Regions from separate parts of the Homo sapiens genome. Here region 2 is linked to region 1. The links come from fine-mapping of genetic effects on gene expression. A gene starts in region 1. The other region holds a variant in brackets. All regions are shown on one strand. Distances are between the middles of the regions. Region 1 holds the start of TIMP1 (TIMP metallopeptidase inhibitor 1). Region 2 overlaps SYN1 (synapsin I).

Evidence for each region.
Region 2: its variant is fine-mapped to the expression of TIMP1 in whole blood (TOPMed, PIP above 0.99).

The regions. Positions count from the first base shown.
Region 1 is chrX:47,580,016-47,585,393 of GRCh38, reverse strand. TIMP1 (TIMP metallopeptidase inhibitor 1) reads right to left here and starts at 2,958. Exons shown (of 6, transcript NM_003254.3): 1 at 2,920-2,958; 2 at 1,858-1,986; 3 at 379-458; 4 at 63-189. The coding sequence starts at 1,978. All of the region lies in intron 5 of SYN1 (synapsin I), which reads left to right. RefSeq lists silencers at 3,001-3,100, 3,161-3,310.
Region 2 is chrX:47,604,404-47,609,781 of GRCh38, reverse strand. It overlaps SYN1 (synapsin I), which reads left to right. Exons shown (of 13, transcript NM_006950.3): 2 at 2,584-2,641; 3 at 2,746-2,837; 4 at 4,403-4,559; 5 at 4,715-4,804. Among named protein-coding and RNA genes, the nearest start is that of SYN1, 13 kb to the left of the region's middle. The variant C/T (reference allele first, on the strand shown) is at 2,166.

The DNA of each region.
Region 1 (5,378 bases):
GTTGCTAGGCCGCGCCCCAGGGACTGGTTGGTGTGGCACAGGGCGCGGGGACGGTGCCTCACCAGCAATGAGAAACTCCTCGCTGCGGTTGTGGGACCTGTGGAAGTATCCGCAGACACTCTCCATGGCGGGGGTGTAGACGAACCGGATGTCAGCGGCATCCCCTAAGGCTTGGAACCCTTTATACATCTGTTGATGGATGAGGGGAAGTGTCTCTTTTACTGACATAATCCTCCCACTCCAGGTTCTTCCCTGAAGTCATATAGCATCCCAAGATCACAGCCAACTTTCTCGCACCAACCAGTGGCCAGAAGTTTCTGTTTTGACCAGGAGGAAGATGTTAGAAAATGCTGGGAAAGAGGCGGGGGCAGGGGATACCTTGGTCATCTTGATCTCATAACGCTGGTATAAGGTGGTCTGGTTGACTTCTGGTGTCCCCACGAACTTGGCCCTGATGACTGCAGGAGAGGAGGGAAATATGAGTCAAATGGACTGCATGAGCCAATAAAAATAAGATCATCATCATCATCATCATCATACCAGCAAAGCGCATACATAAATAGGGGTTATTGGATGCCAGACAGCACACAAAGTGATTTACACATTTGTTCATTGATTCATCTGTATGTTGAGTGTCTCTCTTTGCCGGGCACTGCTTAAGCCATTTTCATACATTGATTTGTTCATTTACTCCTCAAATATTTGGGAGTGCCCACTGTGTGCCAGACATTGTTCTGGGTGTTAGGGACACAACAGTGAACAAAACACAGAAATCCCTTTCCTTGTGGAGTTCACATTCTAGCCAGGAGGAGACAGGCTAAGAACAAACAAAATAAGGATATGGAATGTTAGACATTAAGTATAATGGGGAATTACAGACCTGGGTAAGGGGCTGACAAAGATTCTTTGCTTGACCAAACTTTACTCAGGCTCCTGAACCTCCTCCTAGGCCCATCTGTGCACTTCCTTGTAAAATCCAGTTTTAGCCGAGAGCCTTGCTAAGTCAGTTTAGCAAGAACCCCTATATTCTATATCTGATCATCCTCAATCTCTGATCATCCTCAATACCTGATCATCCTCAATCTCTGATCATCCTCAATACCTGATCATCCTCAATCTCTGATCATCCTCAATACCTGATCATCCTCAATCTCTGATCATCCTCAATCTCTGATCATCCTCAATACCTGATCATCCTTGCTATCTGACTGGGTTCTTCATCTTCCACCATCCCCCAGGTGATGTCTGATTCCCCTTGGCCTGCCTTCAGCAAGAATCCTGTTACGTCGGTTTAGCCAGAATCCCCCTTACCCCTGATGTTTCTTCTTAGTAATTTCCACCCACAGACCCTCACACTGCTCCTTAGCTACACATTCCCACTGGCCCATGCTATATTCAGTGTTGAGCCCAATCTCTCCCACCGACTGCAAGATCCCATTGCAGTGGTTCCTATACCCATCACCATGGTCCTGAATATGGTCTTCCTTACTGTGTTATAACAAGTATCACTGAATATTTTTCTGTTTAACAGGAGATCAGGAGTACTAAGGGGCAGGGGTTAAAATTTTAAACAGGATGGCCAGGGAAGGCCATCCTGAGAAGGTGACGTTTGAGGCAGCCACCCATGTGGATACCTGGGGGGAAAGTGTACCAGGCAGAGGGAGCAGCCAGCATGCAGATCCTGTGGTGGGCTTGGGCACAGAGTACTCAAGGAAGTGTGAGGATGCCAGTGTGGCTAAAGCAGAGGAAGTGCAGGGGCGAGTGGAATCATTCTAGAGGTAAGTGCCATGGTGAGCCCCACTGGACTGAAAGGGAAACCAAGGCAGAGTGTGTGGGCTGAGTGGGGTGAGGACTCACCGAGGTCGGAATTGCAGAAGGCCGTCTGTGGGTGGGGTGGGACACAGGTGCAGGCCCTGCTGGGGGCTATCAGCCACAGCAACAACAGGATGCCAGAAGCCAGGGGCTCAAAGGGGGCCATGGTGGGTTCTGTGGGGAAGGGGGATGTCAGGCAGGCCCCGGCCCAGCTGATCTGCTGACCTGGGCAGGTCATCCACCCCATCTTGCCCCGGGGCAGCCTATGGGGGGGATTAGGGGGCTGGATTTGGGCTTGAGGGGTTGGTAAGCTTAGGGATTTTAAGGGGATTGGGGAGCGCAGAGGAATTTAGGGTTTAGAGAGTTGGGAGAGTTTAAATTATTGAGGGACTGAGTGAGTTGCGGGGTTATGGGGTTGTGGCACTTGGGGGAGAAGGGGGCTGAGGAAGTTTGAGGAATGAGGGGATTGGGGAATTCTGGAGGTTGAGGAGTTTGGGGGTGAGGAATTTGGGATTGGGGGCTGGAGGAGTTTGGAGACGGCAGAGTTTAGGGGTTGTGTATATTAAGAGATATAAGAGGCTGGGGGAATTTAGGGAGGTTGAGGAATTTGGAGGAGGTTGGGGGTTTAGGGAGCTGGGGGAGTTTGGAGGTTGAAGGGGTTGGGGGAATTTGGGGGCTTAAGGCAATGGGGATACTTGAGGAATTTGAGGGCAAAAGAAGTTTGGGAGCTGGGGAACTGGGGATTGGGGAGCTGGGGGAGTTTAGGGAGCTGCAGGGGTTAGCGGTGGGTATTTAGGGGGCGATGAGGGAAATTTCGGGATGAAGGAATTTGCGGGGGGATTTGGAAAGCATTTGTGATATTAGGGGGTCATGGGTTTGGGGGAATTGGGGGCGGATGTCAGGGGTTCTAGGGAGTTTGGAGCCTCGGGGTTGGGAAAGCAGTTCCAGCCTCCGACCCTCTTCCCCCTAGACTAGCCCAGGGTCCTGGTACCCGCAGGCCAAGCTGAGTAGACAGGCATCTGGCACGGGAGTGCACGGGCCTGGTGGCCAGCACCCAAGCTGCAGCCCAGCTCCGGTCCCTGCTGGGCCACCCCGGGCCCTGCTTACCTCTGGTGTCTCTCTGGGCGCTGGATCTGCGGCGATGGCGGCAGGGCCTGAGCGCTAGAGGATAAATGTCCACGCTAGGGGCGGGGGTGGCAGCGGGTGCGGAAACCACAGGCCTCCAGGCTTCCTGGATGCATTACTCATCCACCCACCATCAGTGCAGAAGCCAAGGGGCGGGCCGACGAAAGGAGATACACCCTCCTCCTCTCCCACCCGCCTCCTCTCCCTCTCCCTGGGCCTCGCCCGGGCCAGCCACCTCCCCCACCTCCACGTCAGTCACTATTCCTTCCAAGCCGCCTCAGCGGAGAGCTTAGAGGCCGCATTTCCCCCGGCCCAGTCCCCTAAAGTCTCCAGAATCTATCCAATCACCCACATCCCCCAAGCTCCCTATGACTCAAACCCAAATTAGTTCAGCCCTTCAACATTTATTGTGCATCTACTGTGTGCCAAGCACACAAAAATCCCTTGTTTTGTATGTCTGACATGCTGGTGAGGGGTGGCAGAGAGGAAACAAATTAAGTAGCAGCAGTGGAGGGAGATAAGGCAGGTGAAAGGGGAGGAATACAAAATGGGGAAACTGAGGCACGGAGTGGTTAAGTGACTTACCCAGGATCACAGAGTCAATACATGGCAGAACTGAGACTGGAACTCAGGTGGCCAGGAGCCAAAGCCAGGGTCTCAAATAACACAGGCAAATAGCCGGCATTTATACAGCACCTACTGTATACCAGGCACTCAGCATAGTTTATCTCACTCAAAGCTCACAACAAATCTCTGAGATGGGTACCGGTTCTTATTCCCGTTTTACGGATGAGGAAATATGGGGCGTAGAGGAACTGTAGAATTTTCCTAAGATCACAGGGCATGGCCGGGATTCAAACAGAGGCTACCTGGCACCAGGGTTGTAACTCAGGAGTGGCACCGTCCTAGCAAGCAGGGAATGGTGCGGGTGAATGAATGAGCATTGGGAAGGGGGTGGCCATGAATGATGGTGAAAGAAGCAAGTGAGTGGGTCAGTAGAAAACTAATCCCCACCCCATCCTGCCCTGCCCCCTCCCCATGGACCTGTACCCCTGGTGGGGGGTGGGGTGGGGCAATCCTTGCCCACCAGCTTTCTGACAATGCAGGAACCTTCCCTGGGGTTCTGATTAACATCCTTAATTCGAGGAGGATAGATCAATAATAATAATTGTAGTGATGATGGCAGCCACTTATTGAGCACTTTCTGTGTACTATGTGCTAAAGTGTTTGTATAAATTATCTCATTCACTCACCATACTCCCTTGCTAATTAAGTTTGATTAACTCAGGGATGATAGCCCAATAACAAGAACACAACAAAAACTACCAGCAGCCCTTATGGAGTGCTTACTGCGTATCCAGCACTATTCTGGGTGGGAGGAATGTGAGGGATGAGAAATTGCCTAATGGGTACAATGTACACTATTTGGTTGATGGGGACACTAAAAGCCCAGACTTCACCACTATGTAATATATCCATGTCACAAAACTGCAGCTGTACCCTCTAAATCTATTTTTTTTTTTTGACAAGAGTCTTGCTCTGTCACCTAGGCTGGAGTGCAGTGGCGCGATCTCAGCTCACTGCAACCTCCGCCTCCGGGGTTCAAGAGATTCTCCTGTCTCAGCCTCCTGAGTAGCTGGGATTACAGCCACACCACCACCACCCCCAGCTAATTTTTGTAGTTTTAGTAGAGACGGGGGTTTCACCATATTGGTCAGATCTCGAACTCCTGACTTCAGGTGATCCACCTGCCTCGACCTCCCAAAGTGTTGGGATTACAGGCGTGAGCCACCACACCCGGCCTTCTAAATCTTTTTTTTTTTTTTAGACAGAGTTTCGATCTTGTTTCCCAGGCTGGAGTGCAATGGCAAGATCTTGGCTCACTGCAACCTCCACCTCCTGGGTTCAAGCAATTCTCCTGCCTCAGCCTCCTCAGTAGCTGGGGTTACAGGCACACGCCACCACGCCTGGCTAATTTTTGTATTTTTAGTAGAGACGGGGTTTCACCATGTTGGCCAGGCTGGTCTCAAACTCCTGACCTCGGGTGATCCGCCCACCTCAGCCTCCCAAAGTGCTGCGATTACATGCGTGAGCTACGGCACCCAGCCTAAATCTATTTTTTAAGAAAGCACTTGGCCGGGCATGGTGGCTCACACCTGTAATCCCAGCACTTTGGGAGGCTGAGGCAGGCAGATCGCTTGAGCTCAGGAGTTCAAGACCAGTCTGGGCAACATGGTGAAACCCTGTCTCTATTTAAAAAAAAAAAAAAAAGCACTGTTCTAAAGTCTTTTTACAGACATTATCTCATTTAATCAATCCCGATTGCCTCTTTGTTCATTAATGTTAGTTAAGGAAGAGATGTTAAGCCAATAATAAGAGTACCCAACACTTCTTGAGGATCGAGGCTTACTGTATGCCCGATACCATGTAGAGCATTTTTC
Region 2 (5,378 bases), 24 kb before region 1:
TATGGCCTAAGTCACATCCTGCTTGCACCACAGCCCGGACCTGCTGCAGAGCACTTTGCGTTGCTACAGCATATCGGAGGCTATCTATGCCCCACCTCCCACTACTGATGGGTCCTCACTGCCATCTGGCTGCTGGGTAACCCAGCTCCAGAATTGCATTAGACCACCCTTGTAGTTTGACTTCCATGGCCCACTGTTTTAGGTTGGGTTCCCTGGAAAAAGACTTTGAGGTGGAGATTTGCATGCAGGAGGCTTACTGGAGTGTGCCATTGGGATCAACACTTGTGAGGAGGGTTGGGTTGAGCAGAGGAAGAGGCTGGCTCAAGATGTAGTTGCCTTAGGGGCCTCCGCTGCTCTTAGGGGGAGCCCTGGGGCTGGGAGGGTCCTTCAGAGTCAGCCCAGATTGAGGCAAGGAGGCTGGCCTTTCTTTCCCTTCATAGACCAGACCATGGGGATGCCCTCATGAAGTAGGTGTAACCTTGGACAAGGCAGTTCCCTGTGACAAGACAATTCCCAGTGGGGACACAGCCATGAGCTGTCAGTAGCTGCCATTCAAGGTACATTGTCCCTGAAGAGGAGGCCTGAGCAGACCACCACAGTATCCAACTACACTTATGGTCAGAAAAGTTTTAGAAACAGTGATACACCCTCATCATCCCCACTCATCAGTTTATAGATGAAAAATGTGCAGGGCTGAGAGAGATTCTCTCTCAACACTTCTGAGGGGATAGTGTCAGCGATGGTGTGTGTGTGTGTGTGTGTGTGTGTGTGTGTGTCAGAGAGAGAGCAAGGAAAAAGAAGTAGCTGTACTTGGGGTCTCTTGCATATGTCAGTCAAGTCACCAGGGTCCATTTGTGCCGTGTGTGTGTGTGTGTGTGTGTGTGTGTGTGTGTGTCTGTCCAAGACCCTGATTGTATGTGTGTCAGTGACCAGTAGCCCTGAAAGTGTCTCTCCCCCTCATCCCCCTTCCATGATAAACCTGATTGAGGATGAGCTTCCATCCCTGGAGCAAGCAGCCTGTTGGCTAGAAATCTTGAGCCTGGGGGAGGAGGCCACCGGAAACCAAGCCCAGCTGGGGACGGGCCCGGGGACAATGACATAGCAGTTCGTGATGTTCCTACTGCTGCTCCCACTCCCCCTCCCTCCTGTTGCTCCCTCTCCTCCTCAGCTGCATTCCTCCCTGCCCCCCATCATTGCCAGCTACACTGGCTTCTCTAGAGCCACCCAGCCTGCACCACTCAATCCACTCCTCCTTATCGGATGCAGCTGCCCACCTATGGCCATTGTGTTTCTCACAGCACACAACCACACATGGTGAATGTGCTCCTCCTTGCGAAAGGGCCAGAGAGCAGAGAGATGCTTCAGGCCACACAGCCAGACACAGGCACTGACATATACACAGGCACTAAAAAATACACAAAAACAGGCACGCTTCAGAGAAATGTAGTTTCTTTCTCTCCTTCCTTCCTTCCTTCCCCTTCCTTCCTTCCCCTTCCTTCCTTCCTTCCTTCCTTCCTTCCTTCCTTCCTTCCTTCCTTCCTTCCTTCCTTCCTTCCTTTCTCTTTATTTCTTTCTCTTTTTTGCCTAGGTCTTGCTCTGTTCCCCAAGCTGGAGTGCAGTGGTGCAATCACGGCTCACTACAGCCTCGACCTCCTGGGCTCAAGCCATTCTCCTGCCTCAGCCTCCCCAGTAGCTGGGACTACAGGCATGCACCACTATGCCTGGCTAGTTTTTGTTTTTTGGGTTTTTTGGAGATGGAGTCTCGCTCTTGTTGCCCAGGCTGGAGTGTAATAGCACCATTTTGGCTCACTGCAACTTCCGCCTCCTGGGTCCAAGTGATTCTCCTGCCTCAGCCTCCCAAGTAGCTGGGAATACAGGCATGCACCACTACACCTGGCTAATTTTGTATTTTAGTAGAGAAGGGGTTTCACCATGTTGGTCAGGCTGGTCTCGAACTCTTGACCTCAGGTGATCCACCCGCCTTGGCCTCTCAAAGTTGTGGGATTATAGACGTGAGCCACAGCCCTCGGCTTTTGTTTTTTTTTTTTTTTTTTCAATTTTTTTTGTAGAGATGGGGGTCTCTCTATATTGTCCAGGGTGGTCTCCAACCCTTGGCCTGAAGCAATCCTCCTACCTCCAGCCTCCCAAAGTGCTGAGATTACAGG[C/T]GTAAGCCACCGTACCTGGCCAGATAGGTGTTTTCTAAGGTTCTTTGCTGTTTACCGGTCTCCATGCAATTTCAAAGTATGTTCTAATTTACATAGTGCTGCTAATTTTGTGAAGTTTTTTTAAAAAATTTACAATGACAATGTGATGAGCAGACTAAATTTTGGGAAATACCTGCTCTCTGCAGTGTAAGGCCACATTTTACAGTTTGCAATGTCCTTTAATATTTTTGCAACTCCATGAGGATTACAACAGACATTATTCACAAAGCACTCTTGATTTTTTCAAAATATTTCAATAATTATAAGGCACTTTGTGGTTTCTTTAGTAGCATTGAAGGGGCAAAAGGGTCAAGGGCCTGTGTTTTGTCTTCCCTTCTGAGATTTCATCATTGACAGATGTGTTGTTTTTCCTCTCCAGGGCAAAATACTTCAAAGGGAAAAAGATCCATGGAGAAATTGACATTAAAGTAGAACAGGTAAGTTGGGACATTTGGACCTGGGGGTCAGTTGTCCATACTGCAAACTGAGTGGCCATTTTTGTGTGATGTAGGTGAATCACCAGTTTTTTTCTCCTTCCCAGGCCGAATTCTCTGATCTCAACCTTGTGGCCCATGCCAATGGTGGATTCTCTGTGGATATGGAAGTTCTTCGGAATGGGGTGAAGGTCGTGCGGTGAGTATAAGAAGGGTACCTTGGTGTTATGAGCAAGGCATAAGAACTCTCCCTTAGAGCTGGGGGAAAGTTCCTACCTCCCCACCCATCCTTCTGTGGGCAAGAACTTAGGCATGGAATGTGGGGAGACAACTTTTCTTCAGAAAAAGAGCCAGGGACCCCAGGATGCCACAAGTCAGACTTTAAAAAAAAATATATATATATATATATATATTTCAGACAGGGTCTTGCTCTGTCTCCCAGGCTGGAGTGCACTGGCACAATCATGGCTCTCTGCAGCTGCAACCTCTCAGGCTCAAGTGATCCTCCCACCTCAGCCTCCCAAGTAGCTGAGACTACAGGTGCGCACCACCATGCCTAGCTAATTTTTATGTTTTTTGTAGAGATGGGGGGGGTCCTCACTATGTTGCCCAGGTTTGTCTCAAACTTCTGGGCTCAAACAATCTACCTGCCTTGTCCTCTCAAAGTGCTGGGATTACAGGCATGAGCCGCCACACCCAGCCTTCAATTATTAATTAAATAAACATTTGCTAGACATCTGCTGCATGCCAGATGCTGCTCTCAGGACTTCATATTCAATAAATATTTATTGTACACCTACTGTGTGCCAGGAGATATTCTACATGCTGAAAGGCCAAAAAAAAAAAAAGAAAAAGAACCTGGGCCTTATGAAACTTACATTCTACTGTGAGATACACACAATACACAAATAAATAAGAAAATGTAAAAGTGCTAAGAAAAAACATAACAGTGGCCGGATGTGGTGGCTCATGCCTATAATCCCAGCACTTTGGGAGGCCAAGGTGGGTGGATTGCTTGAGCCCAGGAGTTCAAAATCAGCCTGGCCAACATGGTGAAACCCCGTCTCTACTAAAAATAAAAAAATTAGCCAGGCGTGGTGGCAGGTGCCTGTAATCCCAGCTACTCGGGAGGCTGAGGCAGGGAAATCGCTTGAACCCGAGAGGCGGAGATTACAGTGAGCCATGATTGCTCCAGCGCCTGGACAACAGAGCAACAGTCCGTCTCAACAGAAAAAAAAAAAAGAAAAAAATATATATATAGCACTAAAGCAGATGTAGCAATTGTTGGATGATGGTGGGGTCTGCAGTTGGGATAGGGTGGCCTGGTTGCAGGAGAGACATTTGAGGAAAGACCTGATGGAGGTGAAGGAGTGATCCATGCAGATATCTAGGGGGGAAGTGCTTTAGGCAGATGGAACAGCCTTGGTAAAGGTCCCAAGGTTAGAATTTATTCTGGGCAGAACACTGAAGACAGCTTGCAGTCTGAGAGATGGTGACCAGGGAGTTGTCAGAGCTGTGTCGGTAAGCTGCAAGCTGACCTTGCTGAGAAGGGAACAGGTAGGAGAGGCTTAAAGGGGATCACCAGGTGGGCAGAGGGTAGAAAGGGTGCACTAGGCAGAGGGAACAGCTCACACATGTGTGCAGAGGTGAGAAACCACTTTGCAATTTCTGGGAGCTATGGAGATTTAAAAACTTGGTCTTTGTTTCGAGAGTGATTGGGAGCTTCTGGGGGAACTCTCAACACTCCTACCCCTGCCACACTAGGTCTCTGAAGCCGGATTTTGTGCTGATCCGCCAGCACGCCTTCAGCATGGCACGCAACGGAGACTACCGCAGTTTGGTCATTGGGCTGCAGTATGCTGGAATCCCCAGTGTTAACTCCTTGCATTCTGTCTACAACTTCTGTGACAAGCCCTGGGTGGTAAGTAACAGGAAGGGTGCCACTGGCAGAGGGAACAGCTCATGCATGTATGTGGGAGCTTGAAACCAGTCTGCGATTTGGGGAAGTGAGGGTGTTCAGAAACTTACAGATTCGTGGTGAAGGACTCACTGACCCAGCTCTCCTGGTTCTCATAGTTTGCCCAGATGGTTCGACTGCATAAGAAACTGGGGACAGAAGAATTCCCTCTAATTGATCAGACCTTCTACCCCAATCACAAAGAAATGGTGAGTTTGGGGAAAATAGAGTGGGCAGGAGGGAAGAGTCATAACTACTGCAATAATATTAAATATTGGTATATTATCAGCAGTGCGATATCAAGAGTGTGGCTGCTGTGTGCACGTGGAGTCATGAAGTTGCTTTGTGATAGGGTCTACCGTGAATTTCCTTATGCTTACAAGGAAAACTAAATCATGATCCATTCTAATATGTATCAGATCCTGTTACTCATGTTGTCTATTTTTGCCAGTATTAAAAACCTATTTCTAATGTGAATTGACAGAATTAATGTAATGAATCAGAATATATTACATATAGAAATTAAGTCATTATTACTAACATTATCAAATATTCCTTCTGATAGAAATTTTACCTATATTCAAATTAGGATTGCCAATAACATTTATCAATAATAATGTTATAAATTAAATTGTTGGCAAGGCACGGTGGCTCATGCCTGTAATCCCAGCACTTTGAGAGGCTGAGGTGAGCAGATCATGAGGTCAGGAGATCAAGACCAGCCTGGTCAACATAATGAGACCCCGTCTCTACTAAAAATACAAAAATTAGCTGGGCATGGTG